5 separate regions of the Homo sapiens genome follow, and all the other regions are linked to region 2. Evidence: fine-mapped expression QTL. A gene starts in region 2. Each other region holds a variant in brackets. All regions are shown on one strand. Distances are between the middles of the regions. Region 1 overlaps SARDH (sarcosine dehydrogenase). Region 2 holds the start of SARDH (sarcosine dehydrogenase). Region 3 overlaps SARDH (sarcosine dehydrogenase). Region 4 overlaps SARDH (sarcosine dehydrogenase). Region 5 overlaps SARDH (sarcosine dehydrogenase).

What was found. PIP is the estimated chance that this variant, and not a neighbour inherited with it, causes the effect.
Region 1: its variant is fine-mapped to the expression of SARDH in whole blood (INTERVAL, PIP above 0.99).
Region 3: its variant is fine-mapped to the expression of SARDH in whole blood (TOPMed, PIP above 0.99).
Region 4: its variant is fine-mapped to the expression of SARDH in whole blood (INTERVAL, PIP above 0.99).
Region 5: its variant is fine-mapped to the expression of SARDH in whole blood (INTERVAL, PIP 0.94).

What each region holds. Positions count from the first base shown.
Region 1 is chr9:133,664,953-133,669,067 of GRCh38, forward strand. SARDH (sarcosine dehydrogenase) reads right to left here. Exons shown (of 21, transcript NM_001134707.2): 20 at 1,783-1,918. Among named protein-coding and RNA genes, the nearest start is that of DBH-AS1, 9.6 kb to the left of the region's middle. The variant G/C (reference allele first, on the strand shown) is at 2,033.
Region 2 is chr9:133,735,938-133,740,052 of GRCh38, forward strand. SARDH (sarcosine dehydrogenase) reads right to left here and starts at 2,415. Exons shown (of 21, transcript NM_001134707.2): 1 at 2,317-2,415.
Region 3 is chr9:133,679,622-133,683,736 of GRCh38, forward strand. The region is part of intron 17 of SARDH (sarcosine dehydrogenase); the gene reads right to left. Among named protein-coding and RNA genes, the nearest start is that of DBH-AS1, 24 kb to the left of the region's middle. The variant C/T (reference allele first, on the strand shown) is at 2,296.
Region 4 is chr9:133,702,677-133,706,769 of GRCh38, forward strand. It overlaps SARDH (sarcosine dehydrogenase), which reads right to left. Exons shown (of 21, transcript NM_001134707.2): 12 at 2,272-2,355; 13 at 240-353. Among named protein-coding and RNA genes, the nearest start is that of SARDH, 34 kb to the right of the region's middle. The variant T/C (reference allele first, on the strand shown) is at 2,207.
Region 5 is chr9:133,688,625-133,692,739 of GRCh38, forward strand. It overlaps SARDH (sarcosine dehydrogenase), which reads right to left. Exons shown (of 21, transcript NM_001134707.2): 16 at 1,756-1,903. Among named protein-coding and RNA genes, the nearest start is that of DBH-AS1, 33 kb to the left of the region's middle. The variant C/T (reference allele first, on the strand shown) is at 2,510.

The sequences.
Region 1 (4,115 bases), 71 kb before region 2:
CGCCTTCCCCATCTCGGAGCCTTTCCCATCAATGAGCAGGTTTCCCTATCTTAGGCAGAAACCTCCGTTACCCCACTTGGGTGCTAGAAAATGTTTAACAACCAGCTCTGGGGTGAGGTGGGTGTGACTGTAGCATTTGCCCATTTCCATGGTGCAAATGCTCTGGACAGCCCTGATGGAGGGGGCAGGAGACGTGCACCGGCCGCTCTGGGTGCATCGACTGGTTCCCCGGCTGCCTGTCTGGATGCCGTTTAACCTCGGAACCTCGGCTTCCCTGGTCACGTTGGTTATGGACCCATCCCTGACTCCGGAGAAAGGCGAGCATTACTGTTCTTTGAAGAAATGGCAAAGGAGCCTCCACTCCCCAGCCCACCCTGGCATGGAGCCCATAAACTCCGGTTTGGCTGGGCCCCAGGGCTGTGGCCCCCAGGACCATGGCCCCAGGGCTGTGTCAGGAGGCCCTGCCCACCGTGGGAGCCATGCCATCACAATCCCCACATATTAAGACTCACTCTGTGCAGTGGCCTGTATGACAGCCCTGCATGGTAGGTGAGTGTCCACATTTTATAAATGAGGAAACTGAGGCTCCAAGAGAGGATCCTTATCCAAGGTCACAAAGCAAGTAAAAGGCAGATCCAAAGGCTAGTGGCATCAAGTGTGTCCCCAGCCTCCCAGCTCCACCGCCGGACTCAGCCCCATGGGCTGCCACTTCCCCACAGCTCCACAGGACCATGGTCTTGCCCGAGGCCTGGCGGTGTCCCCTCCCCATTGGGCCTGCGAGCTGGGCCTGCGCATGTTCTGCAGCTCTTGCTAAGGCTGCTCCGTCTCCAGCCTACCCCTCCTCATGGCTTCTCCCAAGTGCTCGCTCCCTCCCCAATTCCCTCTACGTGTCCATCAGGGGCTCAGGCTGGAAGGCTCTGGAGCCAGGCCAGCACCTCCCGGCCTCACTTAGGGCTTAGGCCAAACGTCAGATCGGCTCCCATGGAGAGACACGACCCTCCTCACCGGCACCTCTACTTGCAGTGCCAGAAAGATGGGAAAAGGAGGTGGAGGTAGAGACCACCCCTTCCCCTTCTGGGGAGGCTGCCCACCCCCTGCCCCACCACCCCTGGCCACCCAGAGCTGTCCTGGGACTTGCTCCTGGGGGCAGTGCCTGCTCTTTCCAGCCTGTTCCTGCCTCCTGCAGCCAGGGGTCAGGGTCACCTGGAGGGGGTGGGGTTGCCTGGGGTCAGGGGTGTCGGGGGTGAGGAAAGAGAGGATAGGAACATGGGTCTCTGAGTCTCTAGTCGGTCACCCTGGGGGCCACCCCTGCACCCCAGGCAAAGGGTGGGCTGTGGGTGGCCTGAGGTTTGGGTCTCTGGTGTGAGGAGCTGGAAGGTATCAGCCTGGCTGGCTGGCACCTCCTTCTAACCAAAAAAAGCCTGGAATCACCAAAGTCGGATTCTTCCAGAAAGAAAACAGAGAGCAGCTTTGGCTCTGCCCAGGCACAGCTGGGGAGTCCTCCACCTGCTGAGGCCTCTTCCTCCCCCTTCTCCTTCTCCCTCCCTCCTCCCTCTCCCTCCTCCTCCTCCTTCCTCTCTCCCCTTTTTCCTTCCCCCTCCTTCTCCTCCTTCCTTCCTCCCCCTCTTCCCTCCTCCCTCCTTTCTCTTCCCTCCTCCTCTTCTGGACCACACCCGTGCCTCCTCCCTATGCCCGGCACACTCAGGGTGCAGTGCAGGGAGCTGGTTTGGAGCTGGTGAGGGATCGGCATCTGCCTTAGCAGGGCCAGAGAAGGGGACTCACCGGCCCACCGCTGGGGTCATGGATGTAACCGTAGGCGATGGTCTTGTCGATGGCGAACCCAAAGTCAGCCCTCCGGACATGGCCCACCACTTGGCCGTTCCTCCAGATGGCCTCCAGGCCAAACATGGGTACTTTGCTGGAAGAAGCAGTAGAGAAAGCTGGGGCCCCAGAAACCGCAGGGTGGGGACGCGTCCACAGCGGCCTGGAGGAGAATGGGGGGCTGCATGATGCACACCCAACCGTGGCTCCA[G/C]GCAGATAGGGCTGGCCTACTAGGACTACGCTGGTCCCCAGAGCCAGCCCAGCACCTGGCCTGGACAGCAGGGCTCGGGCTTCGAGTGAGTAAAAGGGATGAATAGAAAACATCAAAACCAGGAGTGGACTTTGCTGTTTCCAGAAGCGAGCCCCGTATATTTGGGAGGGCCCCTGCTTCCGATTTCCTTCCATTGTTGTTCAACTCTGGTTTTTTTTTTTTTTTTTTTTTTGGTGCAGTGGCACAATCTAGACTCACTACAACCTCCGCCTCCCAGGTTCAAACGATTCTCCTGCCTCAGCCTCCGGAGTAGCTGGGATTACAGGCACCCACCACCATGCCCGGCTAATTTTGTATTTTTAATAGAGATGGGGTTTCATCATGTTGGCCAGGCTGGTCTCGAACTCCTGACCTCAAGTGATCTGCCCACCTCAGCCTCCCAAAGTGCTGGGATTACAGACTTGAGCCACTGCGCCCGGCCAGGTTCATTTTTTTTATAGTACAATACATACTTTATTCAAAGGACTTTACTACATGTAATACATGAATGCTCACTGTAAAAGTTTTAAAGATTAAAAGCAGGAAGACAAAAAAAAAAAAGTAAGCTAAAATCAAAGAAAGGCCAGCACCCAGGGCTAACTGGTAACATTTTGTTGCCAGTCTGCAGACTTCTCCCTGTGCAATGGGTTATCACGGCGGCAGCTATGCAAAGGGGTCCCTGAATGGAAGGGCTGGGGTGATGTTGAGGGCACCTCCTGCATCCTCAGCCTGGAGTCACTGTTTGGGTCCCACCTGTCCATCAGATTAGGACGAGGCTGGAAGGAGGTTTCGTAAACATCTTTGGTGTCACCCTAGTTTCTGTTCTCCACGTGAGGACGCTGAGGCCCCAACTGCCCGGAGTCCCAGAGCAGTGTGGCAGGGCTGTTCTCTGTGACTCCACTGCCAGCATCTTCTCTGCGCCTGTCCTGGAACTGCAACAGTCCAGAGCCGCGGCGCAGGGCAGCTATTATGCAGCCTGACAGGAAACCCCTGAGCAGAGCGCACTGGGTCACAGGGGCCGTCCGAGGCCCTCCTAAACCCAGACATCAGGCTGCAGGTACTTCATGGAGGGCCAGAAGGTCGGGGTCAGGCAAGCAGAAAGGACCCATGGATGCTGACCTGTCTGCAAGGGGCCCCCTCTCCAGGAGCTGAGCTGATTCAGGGAGCTGGACAGGCTGTCACACAAGAGACAGAGCCTGACAGGCACCCAGGGAGAAGCCACAGGATGACGACGACACGGCTCCACTCACCGTCCCTCTCCCTCCCTCTCCCTCCCTCTCCCTCCCTCTCCCCCACCCTCCCTCTCCCTCTCCCTCATTCTCCCTCACCCTCCCTCTCCCTCACCCTCATTCTCCCTCAGCCTCCCTCTCCCTCTCCCTTCACCCTCCCTCTCCCTCTCCCTTCACCCTCCCTCTCCCTTACCCTCCCTCTCCCTCGCCCTCCCTCTCCCCTCGCCCTCCCTCTCCCCTCACCCTCACCCTCCCTCTCCCTCACCCTCCCTCTCCCTCACCCTCCCTCTCCCTCACCCTCCCTCTCCCCTCACCCTCCCTCTCCCTCACCCTCCCTCTCCCTCACCCTCCCTCTCCCCTTACCCTCCCCCTCCCTCTCCCTCACCTTCCCTCTCCCCTACCCTCCCTCTCCCTCACCCTCCCTCTCCCCTCACCCTCCCTCTCCCTCACCCTCCCTCTCCCTCACCCTCCCTCTCCCCTTACCCTCCCCCTCCCTCTCCCTCACCTTCCCTCTCCCCTACCCTCCCTCTCCCTCACCCTCCCTCTCCCTCACCCTCCATCTCCCCTCACCCTCCCTCTCCCCTCACCCTCCCTCTCCCTCACCCTCCATCTCCCCTCACCCTCCCTCTCCCTCACCCTCCCTCTCCCTCACCCTCCCTCTCTCTCTCCTTCCCTCTCCCTTACCCTCCCTCTCCCTCACCTTCCCTCTCCCTCACCTTCCCTCTCCCTCACCCTCCATCTCCCTCACCCTCCCTCTCCCCTTACCCTCCCTCTCCCTCACCTTCCCTCTCCCTTACCCTCCCTCTCCCTCACCC
Region 2 (4,115 bases):
GCTGAGACAGGAGACTTGCTTAAACCCGGGAGGTGGAGGCTGCAGTAAGCCGAGATTGTGCCATTGCACTCCAGCCTGGGCAACAAGAGTGAAACTCCGTCTCAAAAAAAAAAAAAAAAAGATGCGAAAGAGACATGTGACGTATGAACAAACATGTACAGCTACCGCATGTGCACCCAGAGGACCAGCCATCACATGCTGCCTAGTAACCTCTTCCTCTCTTTCCACCCACTTATGAATAATTGTGGAAGACTCCCTGAAAGGGGGTTTCTCCAACAATCATCAATGCTGCCTCACACTCAGGAGCAGCCCCCCGCCTGGAATCCTCTCTCTCCCAGGGTGCATCCGCACCTAACTTTCAAAATGTTCTTTTTCTTTTGCAATAAATTGCTCTATGTTGCAGCTCTTTTGCTGTGTGTCTCATGTTTAAATTCTGTTTTGTTGTTGTTGTTGTTGTTTGTTTGTTTGTTTGTTTTGAGAAAGAGTCCCACTCTGTCTTCCAGGCTGGAGTGCAGTGGCATGATCTTGGCTCACTGCAACCTCTGCCTCCTGGGTTCAAGCGATTCTCCCACCTCAGCCTCTCGAGTAGCTGGGATTATAGGTGCATGCCACCATGCCTGGCTAATTTTTGTATCTTTAGTAGAGACAGGGTTTCACCATGTTGGCCAGGCTGGTCTCGAACTCCTGACCTCAGGTGATCCGCCTGCCTCGGCCTCCCAAAGTGCTGGGATTACAGGCATGAGCCACTGTGCCCAGCCTAAATTCTTTAAACTAAGAAGTTAAGAACGGAGGTCTCACAACAGCCCTCAATGGAAGGGTGGGGTGGTGTCCTGCCCAGTGTGGACCTCCACTGCCCTTTTCTGGGATCTGCAGGAAAAGTGAAAGGGATGTGGCTGTGATCCAAGATGTGAAGTGCTGTGCCACCTACGTCAGTATGAATGACTGATATAATTATCTAAGAAAGTCAGCATCCTTTTTCAAGAGTGGACCATAGCTATGCACGTTCGTTCACTCTCATTGAACACCTATAGACACATGATAATGTCTCTACTTCACAGCGGGGGAGTCTGACACACGGAGAGGCTCCCTGAGGTGACCAGGGTCATAGGGCCTCCATGTGGCAGTGCCAGGGACTCTCTCCTGCCCCCTCTTCTGACCATCCCAGGGGGACTCAGGACCCACTGCCACACTCTGTCCCACCTGAACTGTGGGCACTGCCCAAGCCCTGACGAAGCCCAGAACCCTGTCCTAGGCACAGTGGGGGATGTGAGGGGGATCCCAGCTCTCAGGCTGGTCAGGGCTGCCCCCCATCTCCTGCCCCAGTGCCCCATCCCAAGGGAGGGAGCAGGGAGTCTGATTGCAGCGGCGTAGGGGAGTGAGGAGGTGTTGGAGCTTGTCCTCAGCCTCTCAGCCCTCAGTGTGTCAGCCCGCCTGGCTCCTGCCTGCAGAGGTGGCCCCGGACAAGGAGGCATGCCTCCTGCATGTGTCTGTACATACCTTCAGTCCTTGAAGGTCCACAGTCTTCCAGGAGCCCCCAAAAGTGGTGCCCCACCAGGGGAAAGCCAGCTTGAGTGGCACCGAGGAAGGCCCTCCAAGGCTGAACACCCCCACCCCACCACCCACCACCCACCACGGTGCCGCATGGCACAGCACACCTGGTCAGCTGTGGGCAAAAGCCTCCCTCCTCCTTCCGACTGTGCCCAAAAAGCGACAGCTGCTGGCGCCGGAGGCTGCCACGTGCCCCTTCACCACCTGCCTGGTCAGTCAGGGCTCTTCTGACTGTCAGACTGGGGGCTGGCAGCGGCCCCAGCGGGGACAGCCCAGAGCCCCTCCTGCCTGCCACCTCCCTGGAAACAGCTGCCTCCACATTAACCCACTCTCTTGCCCCCTCCAACTCTGTCTCGTACCTGAGTCAGCTTCCCAGGAGTGAGGGCTGAGGACAGCCCTGGGCTTGGGATCAGACAGATGGGTGGGGGTTTTGTCACAGGACTGGGGCCTCGAGCAACAACTTAACCTCACTGCAAAGCAGAGGACCCAGGAACGCCCTCCTCCTCCCAGGCTCAGGGGGTGGTGGGGGTCAAGCGAGGAGAGCGCCTGGCACCTTCGCCTGGTGAGGGTAGGCAGACTTGTGGGGAGGAGCGGCAGGGGGCGGGGAGGCAGCTGCCCATATGGTGAACCCTGGTCCTGCTCATGCAGCTGGATGGTCCCTGCAGCCAGAGGCAGAGGGAGATCCCAGCCAGATCTGACCAGGCCCAGCCCCGCCCACATAGGGGAGGCCCCAGCCTCGTCCCTCCCTGGGGGTGTACCTCCAAGTACCTCTTGTCAGCTGCAGTGCCCCTCGGCCCTAAGAGTGCTTGGCCCAGCAGAGGTGCCTTCACCTTCTTGCTTCCCAAGCAGTGGCCTGGCCGGAACTCCAGGCCTCCCCCGCCCCCCACCCTCGCTGCCAGCCCCATGTCTCCGCCCAGGATCTGGGCGGAGCGTACCGCCCACCACTGCGGCTTCTAGGCCAGCTTAGTTGGGGCTTCTAGGCCAGCCCTGTGGGCAGCTCCCTCTGAGGGCGGCAGAGCAGGGTTGTGAACCCCATGCCCCATTACCCGTAGGCGACCTGGCAGTCACCCTTCCGCTCCAACCCTCATTTCCTCGTCTCTGAAACAGGCGCCTCAGGGTTGCTGCAGTAGACCCAGGCACCACCTGCCTGCTGGAGCCGCCCGAGCTCCCCGCGCCCAGAAGGAGCTATGCACAGGCAGGGTGGGCAGGAAAGGTGGGGTCAGCAGCAGCTTGGGCCAGGGGCCCGTCCACTGCAGGGAGGCTCCTTTGGTGAGGTCATCTCAGCACATGCCCCAGTTTGCTCACCCCCAGGGACAGGATGCTCACTGCCTTCAGAGGCGAGTGAGAAGGCCTGGGTCAGCTTCCCAGGGACAGGGTCTCCTGGTCTGTCTGCGTCCTGCTTTCCCGAGCTCCCAGACCCCTCTGGTGTTTGGGGAGATGCCCCCAAGCCACTGGCTACTGCACAGCACGTAGCCCCCAGGGCAGGGATTCCAGCCTCCATTGACTGTTGGGGACAGCAGTGCCCAGGGAGGGGGCCACACAGCAAGCTGGTGGAGGAGGCAGACCGGATGCTGCAGCCTGACTCTGGGCTGGGGCAAGTTACCCCTTCCCAGACAGAAGTAGACACCCAGAGGAGGGGTGTGGAGGAAACCCAGAAAGAATACACCTCTGGATGCCCAAAGAATCAGAACAGGTGCTGATGGAAAGTCACATCTCCTCCTCGCGCTGGATCAAAGACGGGGCATTTCAATGGCAGTCTGTTAATATTGTAATGATGCCAGCTGCCAATACCGGAAGCGATCGTATAGTAAACTGCTGTAATTAATACCAATCAAATCATTGTGTTCTTATTCACACCGAGGATGTCCGACTGTCTTGTTGCCAGCTTGTCTATCCTCTACATTTACTGAATGCCCAATGTGTACAAAGCACTGCTGGGAAACCTATAGTGACATCTAAGACCCAGCCCCTGCCCTCGAGGGGCTCAGGGTCCACGAAGCAGACAGATCCAGGGAGAGACACGACACCACAAGGCTGGCTTCCTTCCAGCAGGGAATCCAGGAGGACCTCTTAGAGGAGGGGGCCTGGGCTCTGGGCCTGACCACGTGCTGACACCATTCTCAGTCCCTGCCTCAAAGGCAAAGGGCCCACTGGCTTAGGCCCCTGGCTGCCCAGTGGAAAGCTGGCCCCGCCAGTTTGAGGCTTACCTGGGGTGGTGTGGGGGTCCTGGGGCAGAGGACCTCCTCTTTGGATGGTGTGGCTTGCCCAGTGGCCTGAGCTAGGGCTGTGCTCACCCAACAGGGTGACGAATGAGCTCAAGAGGGCAAGGAAGGAGTGTGGCCCAAGTTCTCCCAGGAGTCCTGGACGTGCAAGTGCATGGGAGAAAAACGCAGCAGTCACCACAGCTCCAGGGCAGTGGCCGGGTAGCCCACACTTCTCCTGTCCCTGCACTCAAAGACAAGTTGCAACTGTTGCAAAACTGTTACAAGCCAAGAGGGCAGCACAATGAACCTGCACTTTGGACAAGGGGTGGTGGCTGGGGGCCGGTCCCGGCCTGTTAGCTGTCT
Region 3 (4,115 bases), 56 kb before region 2:
CCTCGAGGCAAGATATTTGGGGAGCAAGGACAGCTGGTCTGCTGGCTGCTGAGCGGACAATAACTTCTCCCCACCCTGCTTCCTCCTCTAGCAGTCCAGGGATCGTGGCAGCCTGGGTCAGATCCCAGCCTCTCGGAGAACAATCACTGCACAACAGCAGCAGTGCTCAGCTGGGAATCGCGCCCAATTCGTCTGGTGGTGAGGAGGGTCTTTGGGCAGCGGCAGGCGCCCGCTCTCGCACCCGGGGCCCGGGTCTGCAGCTCTGGCCCTTGTCCTCATCGGCCCTCACAACTGCTTTCAACCCAGAGGTTCCGCTGACTGCGCAGGCACACGCATTCCTCGCCTGCATCTGGTTGGCTGGAACCCAACTGATCGCCTATAAATACCTGGCTCAGGCCCACGCTCCAGCCCAGCGTTTCTTCACGTTGAGGGATATGTCATCAACACATTTTTAAGCCAGCACAAGATATTATTTAGGAGAATATGAAATTCTCCCTGGATTCAGAGAATCCAGAGTGTCTGGACAGACTTATGGAAAGGCCCGGAAAGAATTTTAGACATTGTGCTAGACTCCGTGCTACAGGTGGGGACACTGAGGCCCAGAGAGGCGACCCGCAGAAGGACCGGGCAGGATGGGAAGCCAGGCTTCTGGCCTGAGCTCCACCGAGCCTTGGGTAACATGGATGCTTTGGTCCCAAACCCCCCAGTGTCTGTGGCTGACTCAACTCCCATCTCCCACCTGCCTGTGAGGCCCCCTACAGGGGGAGCTGGCCGTGGCCAGTGGCTGTATCCCCACCCGTCTTGCTGGCCAGGAAATGGGGAGGGCACTGTGTCCCAGGCTGGGGCCACCTGGGAGCGCGTGGCCCTGGCCACTTTGAGGGACAGCCTCCCAGGTCAGCAAAAACTGTAACATTGACACTAAGGGCCCAGAACCTCTGCTCTCCTGGCCCACACCTCCCCAGGGCCCTCAAGAGGAGGCAGAGGTCACTGAGGACAGGATTCCTGGCCGCTCCGTCCTCCACACGCTCCTCGAGTCCCCGGCCTCATCTCATGGGATCTGGACCCACCGGCCACCCAGCAACTTCAAGCTCCTGAGGGCCACAGTCGTCCTCCAGACACACGCAGACCTGGCCGCCAGGCCCACACTGGCCACTCCAGACACACGCAGACCTGGCCGCCAGGCCCACACTGGCCACTCCAGAGAGCTGCCGGGAGGACAAGGAGGGAGAGGGACGAGAAGCCAGTGGGGCTGCGCTCAGTGCTGGGCATCAGGGTCTCTAGGTGAAGATGGTTAGCCCCAGCTCACCCCCAGTCTGTCCCCGATGGACCCCACGGACTCCAAGAACATGAGCATGGGAATGACCCCACAGAGCCGGCCACTCAGCCCAGGTGACAGTAAATCTGTGCGCTAAGGTCGTCTGTCTTCCTAAGGAGTGGGGCCCTGGGCCACTGGCTGTCGGCAGAGACGAGCTCCTGGCTGGGGCTGTGTGGGGATGGAAGCCTGCCCTCAGCACCGGGGACATCTGCCGCCCTGGTCCTGCCACGGGGGCTGGGAGGTGTCAGGATGGGGCCCACAGGGATGGGGAGAATGCTGGTGGGTAGTGGGTAGAGCAGGGGCAGCTGATGTGGGCTCCCGGCTCGTCCACAGGCCCCTGGGGTCAGTCCCAGGGCAGAGCCCCCCAACACGGGCCACACTTTTTTTCTAGCCAAGAGGTCGAGACACTCGGGGCCTTGCCCCACCCTGTCTGGTTCTTGCCAACACTCAGTTCTCTGTGGCCATCTTTGCGGGACTCTCGGTTCCATGAGAACCCGTTGGCCTGGGGTCACCCCTCACCCTGCCTAGGACCTCTTTCCAGTACAGGCTGGGCTGTGGCTGCAGGTCCCTTCCTGGGCCCCAACCTCACTCGGGGTCTGAGCCCATCGAGGGAAGGAGCCACATCTTCCATCCTGGGACCCCAATCCAGCACCCAGCAGGCTCCCAGGCAGCATGTCCAGAGTTCACTCCAGAGTCTCTCGAGCGCTAGTGAGGGAGAGGACGAGAAGCACAGCACTGGGAACGGATCGTTAAGTTTAGTAAAACACTAGTGCTTGACTGAGAGTCCCAGTGGCCCTACGTGAGCTGACGGTGCTGGGAGGTACACCATGGATAACTGCCACGGCCGGTGCGCGGCGTGTTTCCCAGCAGCTGGGCCTCCTTATGCGTGTAGCACCTCCCCGCCGCCTATTTCCTGTGTCCCCACGATCGCGCACGCCAGTTGACGCTCATGTCCCACCTCCCCTGTGTTTCCCCTCCCC[C/T]CCATCCCACACGCAGGGACCCCAGCCTAGAAAGCATTGTGCTTCTCTCCCACTCCGCCTGAGACCTAGGGTAGCACTGGGCAAGCGAGGGGCGCAGAAATACGGAAGGACAGAGAAGAACACACCACAGAGTGACCCGGGACCATGAACCGCACATACCTCCGACCTGGTGGGCCCAGCTCTACCCTCTCTCAGACCAACAGTCAGCATCTACTGGGAGGACGGTGTTCAAGGGAAGTTCCTCCCGGGGCCACTTCCAAAGCAGAGAGGTGGACCCGGTGTGAAACACATGAGCAGGGCACTGGAGACGCAGCTGAGGGCGTTCCAAGTGGTTCTCGGGGAACGTTCAAAGGAACAGGGGAACAGTCACGACATTCGGAGAATAAAGCAGTGTGTACAGACTGCATGGGATGCCCTGATTACATTTTAAAATCCACAGATAGTCACAGATGACGGAAAGAAGATGGCGGGCAACACACTCAACTGTCAACCCTGGTTTCTCTGGGATGGGATTAGAGGGGTTTTCGCTAACTCATTGGCAGGCTATGAATGTCCCCAACGGTCCTCTGAGATGCCGCTGACCACCATGTCCCAGCCAGATGAGCTTCGTGCCGCAGCTCACGAGACCTGCCCACAGACCCAGCATCCTTGTTCTGAGGGGGCAAGGGTCGTGCCCAAAGTGGGCTTGGTAGAAGTGAGGTCTGCACTCAGCCCCTGTGCTGAAACCCACGCGCAGTGATGGTTGGAAACTGCTAGAAGCGAGGTCTGCACTCAGCCCCTGTGCTGAAACCCATGCGCAGTGATGGTTGGAAACTGCTAGAAGCGAGGTCTGCACTCAGCCCCTGTGCTGAAACCCACGCGCAGTGATGGTTGGAAACTGCTAGAAGCGAGGTCTGCACTCAGCCCCTGTGCTGAAACCCACGCGCAGTGATGGTTGGAAACTGCTAGAAGCGAGGTCTGCACTCAGCCCCTGTGCTGAAACCCATGCGCAGTGATGGTTGGAAACCGAGCAATGAGCAGTATTTTATGCAGCCGTGATGTGCTTTTTACAACACCAGTGATTTTACACCAATGAGCAGGAGACTGTGGGGAGAGGCGGCCCCTGCACCCCCTGCACCCCCCACGCTGTGTTTGGCCTGGCCTGTTCCTCTGGGGGATGTCATCCCGGAAGCAGAGCCTTTGGGTCAGCTCAGCAAGCACCTGGCCTGGCCTGGCTCCTAGGCCACACAGGTAGAGGCTGACCCAGGCAGCCACTGCCTAGGCTTGGGGAGGCTGCCAGGGCCAGGAAAGGGCCAGCCCCAGGAGAGGGGAGGCAGCTGGAGCCGCCTGTCTGAGAACAAGTCCCAGCAGCTTGCTGGAGTGGCCGTGCGGGTGGGGGCAAGGCTGCTGGGCCTCAAATGGGAGGGGACGTGTTCCCACCTGGTCGTCTCCCCGTCCTGTAGCCAAACCAGACAGAAGCAGCACCTATGCCAAGCCTCAGCAAGGTGGGAGAACCCGCAGCCCCCCTCCCCTTCTGCAAACCAGAACCCAGCTGCAGACAAAGCTGGATGCTGCGTGGACCCCGGCCTGCTGGAGCTGGAGTCGGGCCATCTGAAGGCCGTGTGGCCTGGATCCAGCTGTGCTGCTCTCTCTGAGTGCCCACCCTCTCTGGTCCCAGCAGGCAGCTTTGCACCACAGAGGCAGGAAGCAAGCTAGACACAGCCGGCCCTGCTTCCTGCCCCTGTGCAGCCTCTGGAGAGGGGAGGTGAGAGCAGAGCCGCTGGGATCTCCCTAGTTTCTGGCCGCCTCCTCCCTGACAGTCATCGCCAGATTGTTTATCT
Region 4 (4,093 bases), 33 kb before region 2:
CAGCACCACTTCCGCTCAGGCCTGGCTGCTGGCAAAATCTCGGCACAGAGGGAGGAGGGGGAGAGGAAAACGCATGATTCCTCCTCAAAATGGAGTCAGCCGAAAAAAGCGTGAATGCAGAGCCCGAAGAGACTCCTGGGGGAGGGGAGCCCCTGCAGGGCCAGCCGAGGGCCGGCGCAATGGCTTATCTGAGGGACAGGCAGAAGGACGGACCCCCACGGTGGACCCCAGCTACGCACCGTGTCGTGGTGGGGCGGGAAGGCGAAGGTGTACTCGTCTGCCAGCAGCCTGCGGTAGGCGTAGTCCTCGTGCGCGCGGCTCCCGTAAGCCCCGTAGTAGTCGTACTCGAGGACCTGGGAAGAAAAGACGTGGTCCTCAGCCTGCCTCTTTGGCCCCTCCCCGCTTCCCTCCCCAGAGCGGGGTCCCGCTGAGGCTGTGATGGGGTCAGGCCTGGCCCTGCCCTCGGAGAGCCCTGCACTGAGTGCCCGTGTGTTGTGGACGCGGGCAGGGGGCCCCCATGAGGTCCAGGCAAAACAGAGGCACAAAGGAGGCCGCAGGGTTGCCTGGTGGGTCTGAGAGCCCAGCCAGGGCCCAGGAGGCTGGAGGAGGAGCTGGATGCACCCAAGGTGGGGAACGACAGGGAGAGGTGGTTACCCAGGACCTCAGCCAGGGCTGCTCCCTGGAGCCACGGCAATCCCAGGCCCAGCTCCTGCTCTGGGCCAGCCCCTGCGGGAAGCGTCTTACACTCCTACCAGGTGTGCCCCTTTCTACAGATGAGGAAAGTGAGGCGCAGAGAAGTTATATCTCGCCCAAGGGCACAGACAAGTCCTGGACCTGGCAGTGGCACGAAGCCAGGCAGGTGCGTGGGCTCCAGAGTCCAGCTTTTCTGCCACTGCCTTGGCCTCCCTGGGATCTGCCCCCATCAGACACCCCACAGCCCCACAGCCCCATGCCCCTCCCTGGCCGCTGCTCCTGCAGACAACCCCCCACCCCGCCACCTGCCCTCCTAACTGCCGACACGGCACAGCTGTGAATGCAGGTGTGGGCAATTCTTAACCTCCCAGGGCTGCCAGCCCCGTCCGCCCAAGCCTCACCTCCTCTTCACACACAAGTGGGAGCCAGTGTGAGGTTGTAAGGGAGTCAGGCTTTGCTGGCATCTCTGCATGGAGTACCCCCCTCCCCAGCAGGGACATCCCACCCACTGCAGCCCTGCCAAGGTGTCCTGGACACCCAGGCTGGCTCCCGGGTGGGGGTGCAAAATCCGCCCATCTTGGGACCTGGGGTGTGTTCCTGACTCTCCTCTCCTCGCCCAGGGACAGGGGAGAGGGGCTTCCAGGGCCAGATCTGACTGGAACACAGTGGGTTGCACTTCAAGACAGGGTCTGCCCAGACCCCTCCTCCCCGCAGGGTTCATGAGGACGGCATGTCCCTAGGGGCCAGCAGGAGAAGAGACGATGACCTGCAAGGCTCTGACCCCAGAGCCGTGGCCCCGTTAGCCAGCTCTGGCTCTCATCTCCCCTCCCGATGCCCTGGAGCTCTGGAGCCTGGCCTGGGCTGTGGGTTGCCATGGGGATGGAAGGTGGGTGCACCAGAGGGGACTGGTGAGACGCAGCCCCGGGAAGGGGATTTCGATTTCTGTAAATCTGGATCAAATGCTACCCCTCAGCTGGCCTTAAGGCCTCGCGTCCCCTGCTCCCGAGGGTCTGGGTCCCAGGTTTCACAGCAGGACTGCCTTTGTTCCTCTCACTGAGGACCCAGGTCCCTGGGAGTCCCCAGAGGACGCCCAGAGTCCAGGCCACTGTGAAACCTCCACTGGGAAACTGAGCACCCTGGGTGCATCAACCTGCCCAGTGCCTGCCCTCCTACGGACATAAACCAACAGTCGGAGTGGCCAAAAATAGATGCACAGAATTAGGAGACGCTCCATTCCTCCTGCAACCTGGGGGAGTCTTCTTGCTGTCTCCCCACCGCAGGACACCCCTTCTGCTCTGCCTACAGCCCTTCCCACTTAGGCCATGGAAGGCCTGGCCACAGCGGACGGGTAGTGGGGAGGACGAGGAGTGGGAATTGCGTGAACGGCACAAAGAATGCACTGAGCCTTGGGGGCAGGTCGGCAGGGCTCGGCTTCCCGTGTGCAGAATAACTGATCACGACAGTGGAACCACCTGGGGAGGCGGGGCACACGGAGGGGCAAGGACGGGGCACG[T/C]GGAGGGGCAAGGGGGTTGTCAGGGCAGGGCCTCCCAGCAGCACAGCCCAGCAGGCACTACTCACCGGAGCTGGGCCTCGGGGATGAAACCATCCCGGTCGCTCCCAGCCATGCCGCTCCTGGAACACGCAGCCTTGTCCAAGGAGTTCCTGAGCAGGAGTGGGGAACAGGCATCTGTCACGCATGGCCTGATACCCCTGCGCAGGGCAGAGAGCCACATCCGCCACTTTACACCCAAGGGTGCGGAGAGCAAGGAGGCCCTGACTCTTGGAACCAGGCCTCCAGCCCAGTGTTTGCAGCTACCCTCACTGCCTCACCCTGAGAACCCCTATGTGTAGAATTACCACCTGCCCCATCTGCCCTCACCCTGAGAACCCCCATCTATAGAATTACCACCTGCCCCATCTGCCCTCACCCTGAGAACCCCCATCTATAGAATTACCACCTGCCCCATCTGCCCTCACCCTGAGAACCCCCATCTATAGAATTAATTACCACCTGCCCCATCTGCCCTCACCCTGAGAACCCCCATCTATAGAATTAATTACCACCTGCCCCATCTGCCCTCACCCTGAGAACCCCCATCTATAGAATTACCACCTGCCCTGATCTGCTCTTGCCCCAGGAATCCCATCTATAGACTTACCGCCTGCCCCATCTGCCCTCACCCTGAGAACCCCATCTGTAGAATTATCACCTTCCCCTATCTGCCCTCATCCTGAGAACCCCCAGCTACAGAATAGCACCTGCCCCATCTGCCCTGGCCCCGATAACCATCATCTGTAGAATTACCACCTGCCCTGATCTGCCTTGGCCCTGAGAACCCCCATCTGTAGAATTACCATCTGCTATGGACGGAATCACATCCCCACATAAATTCGTATGTCAAAGCCCTGACCCTGACGTGACTCTATTTGGAGATGGGATCTTTAGGTTAAATGAGGTCATCAGGGTGGGTCCTAATCCCATACGGCTGGAGCCCTTATAGGAGGAGGAAGCGACGCCAGGGCCCTCTCCCCGCTGCATGAGGACAGTGAGAAGGTGGCCGACTACAAGCCAGGAGAGCCCTCTCCAGGAACCCATCGTCTGACACCTTGATCTTGGACCTCCCAGTCTCCAGAAATGTGGGGAAAAAAAAGTTCTGCTGAAACCTCTCCACTTGTGGCCTTTTGCTGTGGCTGCCCTAGCAGAAAGATGCACCATACGACCCAGCAATTCCACTCCCAAGTATGCACAAGAGAACTGAGAGCGGGGTTGTAAACAAATTCCGTTCACGCATGTTCACTGAGCTCTATGCGCAACCACTAACCAGGGGAGAGAACCCCCGTGGCCCTCAGCTGATGAGTGGATCAACAAAGCATGGTCTGCATACACCATGGAATATTATTCAGCCATAAAAAGCAACGAAATTTGGACACATTTTATCACAGGATGAACCTTGAAAACATGCTACAGGAATGAAGCCAGACACAAAAGGTCATGTATTGGATGATTCCAGCATATGAAGTGACCTGAACAGGCAAATCCATAGAGACCGAAACAGCTTAGTGGTTGCCAAGGCTGGTGGGAGGAGATGAGGAAGGGCTGTTTACTGGGGATGGTGTTTCCCTGTGGGGTGATGAGAATGTTCTGGAACTGGGTAATGGGAACGGTTGCACAGCACTGCAAAGGCACTTAATGCCACTGAATTGTACACTTTAGAGCAGTTAAAATAGCTCATTTTAAGATCTGCCTACTTAATCACAACAACGAATGTAATGAACACACTAGAGAAACAGAGTGGGAGGTTTCTTTAAAAATAAATTTGGTTTGGGAAAAAAAAGAAAACCCACTCTCGGGTTTGGAAGGGCCCTACCCAGGGGCCACCCCCTCTGACTGGAACGAGGC
Region 5 (4,115 bases), 47 kb before region 2:
TCTCACCCTGCTGCCCTCTGAGCCCGGCTCCTGGCCTGCTCCATCCCAGCCTCAATGCGTGCCTCAGACATACGCACTGGCCTGCCACGGGGCCTTTGCACCTGCTGTTACCACTGCTGGGAGCAGTTCCCCCAGAACACCAAGGCTGGGTCACTCGTTTCCTGCAGGGTTCTGCCCAAATGTCTCCTTAATGCATGTTGGTTTCTATGAGCAGCCTCAAGTCAAACACTTGGCAGAAGCCAGTTAGTGTTAAAGCACTCGACCCTCTCCGATTCTATCCCTTCCTCAGCAAGCACGCGTCTACCGTGTGCCCCTGAGCACCACAGTGCATATGCTTGGACGGACAGCAACAGCTCGGTCCCTTGCAGCCTGAGAGGGGAGCAACTGGCCTAGGACTCAGCGTGGGGTGCCAGGGAAAGCGGACCCCATGGCAGAGTCTGGGCACTCCAGCCAGAGGTCTCGGCAGAATCCCAGGCTGACAGGATATCACCAGGACACAGCCCTGCTACGTCAAGTGCTCACCTCGGCGACCTTCAGGCTGGAGACTCATCTCCCCCCCACCCCTCCCTGCCTCTCCTCCTCTCCTTTCCCATCCTCTCCCCGAAGCTGCCACCATCATTTTCCAGAGACAGATCACCCCTTTGATATCCTCCATGTCCCCAGAAGCAGTGCCCTCATCTCGTGCCTCTTCCTCCTGCCCAGTCCAGCAGAGCCACCCTGTCCAGCCCCAAGGCAGATGTGGCGGCAGGAAGCACACCGAGATGAGTGTCCTGGCCCCTTAGCCTGGTGGGGGAGGGTCACCAATGGAAGGCCTAGACTAGGCCGTTTTCTCACAGAGGATTTTTAACTCTTGAAAAAGGGTGGCGGTGAGCGTGTGCAGGCTTCTGAGCACAAGGGGGACGCATCCCCATCAGCCCTGGCACTGACCAGCTGTGTGACCTTGGGCAAATGTCTCAACCTCTCTGTTTCTCAGTTTCTGCATCAGTAAAAATAAGAACAATTATGACCACCTCAAAGGGCTACCGTGGGGATGGGAGATGTTGGCTCAGGCTTGGCAAGTCACAGGTGCTCCACTGGTGGCTGCTAACATGATGTCCTTCCTCCCTGTCCCCCACCCCCAGTCCCTTCTCCCAGCCTCCGAAGCACAGTCAGAGGGGTCTTTCCAAGGTGCACACCTGCTCAGCCGTCCTTTTGCCCAAGACTCTTCTGTGGCTGTGTGCATGAGCCAGCAGCCGAGGGTCTTCCCCGGTCCTGGTTTCTCATGGGTGGGGAACACAGCCCGGCAGGTGTTTATAGAAGGAATGCACGCATGGATAAGCCTTAACCTTGTCATGGAGGGTGTTTCCGGAGGAGCCAGGGACCCCTCGGTATAGGATATTATTCTGCCCATGTGATCAAGGTGGCGTACAGAAATTACCAGGTAGCAGGGCGAAATCTGGCCTGGTTCTGCCCACTTTGGGATGGTGGACGGTAATTCCTAGACTGCACTGGTGACTCAGAGACTGCCCTCCCCTCTGGGATCCTGGGGTCCTCAGTGACTGAACAGCTGTAAATTTCAGTCTGACTCGTGTTACCGGCTTATCTGCATTCCAGTGCTTTGAAGATATTTATTCAGAATGGCATCTCTGGTTTACCAGAGCGCTTAACTATTCAGAATGGCCCATTCTGGACAAGCTGTTCTGCCCAAGGGCCTGTTGGAGGACCTGGGTCCAGGCAGCAGGTGCACCCAGGGGCGGGCTCCCAGTCCTCTCTCACCTGGCTGGGCCCTGGATACTGATCATACCCAGGTCCTCGGAGCTGTCGATGAGCTGGCACTGGGACTTCTGGTCCTGCAGCACGGTGGTGATGTGGGACCAGTTGTGCTGGGCCACGGCCCCGCCCATGGCCAGGTAGTAACCGTCCCCTGGAAGAGAGGCACCTGGACTTAGAGCAGGATTTCAGGGCCTGGGAGGTGGGGACAGAGAGGGTGGCCCAAGGGTCTCCCGGCTGAGAAAACAAATGCCCTCTCAGGGGCCTGTGCCTTCACAGTGCCCAGGAACCGTATCTGTCCCTCCCTGGGTCCCCCAGGGCCACGCCTTGCAGAGTATCCTCTGAGCCATGGGGGTTAGGAGAAGGACCTGCTTCTCAACCCCTACCACCCACCCCTCTGCAGACACCTCAAAGGGATGCCCCTACCCTGGGAGGACGGTGTCTTGGGAACACACAGGCCTAGGCCAGCCTGGCCCAGATGCAGTTCTGCGGCTCACCGGCCTTGCTTCTCACCTCTCTGAGCCCCCATTTTCTCATCTGTAAAAGGGGCAGACCCACAACATCTGGCCCCACAGGGCTATTGGAAGCACCCTTGGACGAGAGACCTCTCAGGGCCCCAGGCAGGCCCCAGCCAGGCTGCTCCCTCTCTTCTTCCTCTTGACACCATAAGCACAACAGAGAATGAAGGCAAAGAGACAAGCCAGTCCTCAAGGGGTTCCCCGACACCTGAACTGGGGCCGTTTCTGGATGGAATCCTCAG[C/T]TCTATTCAGACAGACACCCTACCTCACCTCCCCCAACACACACACACACACACACACACACACACACACACACACACACACGGCCACTCTCAGGCCCCTGGCTCCTGAGTGGCCCCCCCAGTCTGCAGCCATCCCAGGCCTCTCCCAGGAGGGCATGGGAGCTACTGAGGCCAACTGGTGCCCAGGGAGATGGCAGCTGATGGGCCTGGCCTCCTGTGGCCCTGACCATCCATGATCAACTTCCCTGAAAACAAGACGCCAGTCCTGAGGCCAGAGGTCAGTCAGCCCAGGTCCAGGCCTGGCCTGCAAAGCTGACATGGCAGAGAGCAGTGAGAAGGCAGGGTGGCCGGGGACTTGCACCATCGGCAGTGGGTGTGGGGGGAGCTGTGGGCTGTGCAGCTGATTTTGTGCTTTTCAGTATCATTGGAATGGTTCCCAGGAGCATGTATCCTTTTGTAATCTTACAAAAAGATCAATAAAGACCATTTAAAATTACTTTTGAGATTGACAGCTGCTTTGTATGCCACCTTGATCACATTGTGTAAATCATCACATTCTCTCGGCTCCGTGGTGATCTGATGCAGCATGGGTAGGTAGCGCACGTATTCAACACGCGCATATTTAATGCCCATGCATATTCATAACTCAAACAGTGCAGTTTTGAAGCCTGAAAGTAAAGCAAAGCCCACATGGTGGTTTTCTCCTGTTGAGTGGTGTCCCCAGGACCCGCAGAGCCCTGGGGGATGTGACTCACTGTGCTAACTCCACACCCACCAAGTGCAAACCTTCCCAGCAACCAGCACCGCCGATCCCCAGCCCTCAGCTCTAGGAATCCACCAGAATCCTCTGGAAAGCTAATTGTGCACCACTGGGAGATGGCTCAGCGTTGAAAGCACTTTCCTGACAGCTTCCCCTTATGAGGGGGGACGAGCAAGGTCCTCATTCCCCAGCCAGGGAAACTGAGGCTCAGGGAGGCTGCTCCCCAGCCCTCCCAGCACCCCCAGACTCTGACTCAATTCTCCATCGCAGCCCCGGGAGGCGCGTCTTCCTCACTCCATTCCACCAATGGGGGAAACTGAGGCTCGGGGGGGCAGGTCGCTGAGCCAGGTAGTGGCAGGACCTGGCCAGGATTTTTGGTGACCTGTGTCCTCATTTTGGCCCCTCTACTGTCTCCCTAGCTAGACTCACTAAGTCTGCGGCTATGGGCTGTGCCTGGGCCGCCCCTCTACTGGGGGCTGATGCCTAGCTCCTTACAGGCAACACTCCTCTCAGCTCAGAGATGCCATTTCAGCTGAATGACCCAGAGACGACCAGCGATGGGCAGGTCACACTGGTTCTCACCTCTACACCCTTGTAGCCAGTGGCTCCTCCCCATCCTTCCAAGCTCAGGCCGGCCCTCTCCTCCAGGAAGCCTTGCTCATCCCGGCTCGGCGGCTTCACATGGCCTTCCCTAACACCTCGCTCTTTCCCATCCCCTTGCATGTCCCCCTCCAGGTGTTACGGGGCCCTTCCTGCCCCCGTCTGGACATACAGCCCACTGTGGGGTCCCTGAAGCCCCACCGGCCTCCTTCACCTCCTCCCGACCCTGGCTACCTGGTGCTTCCA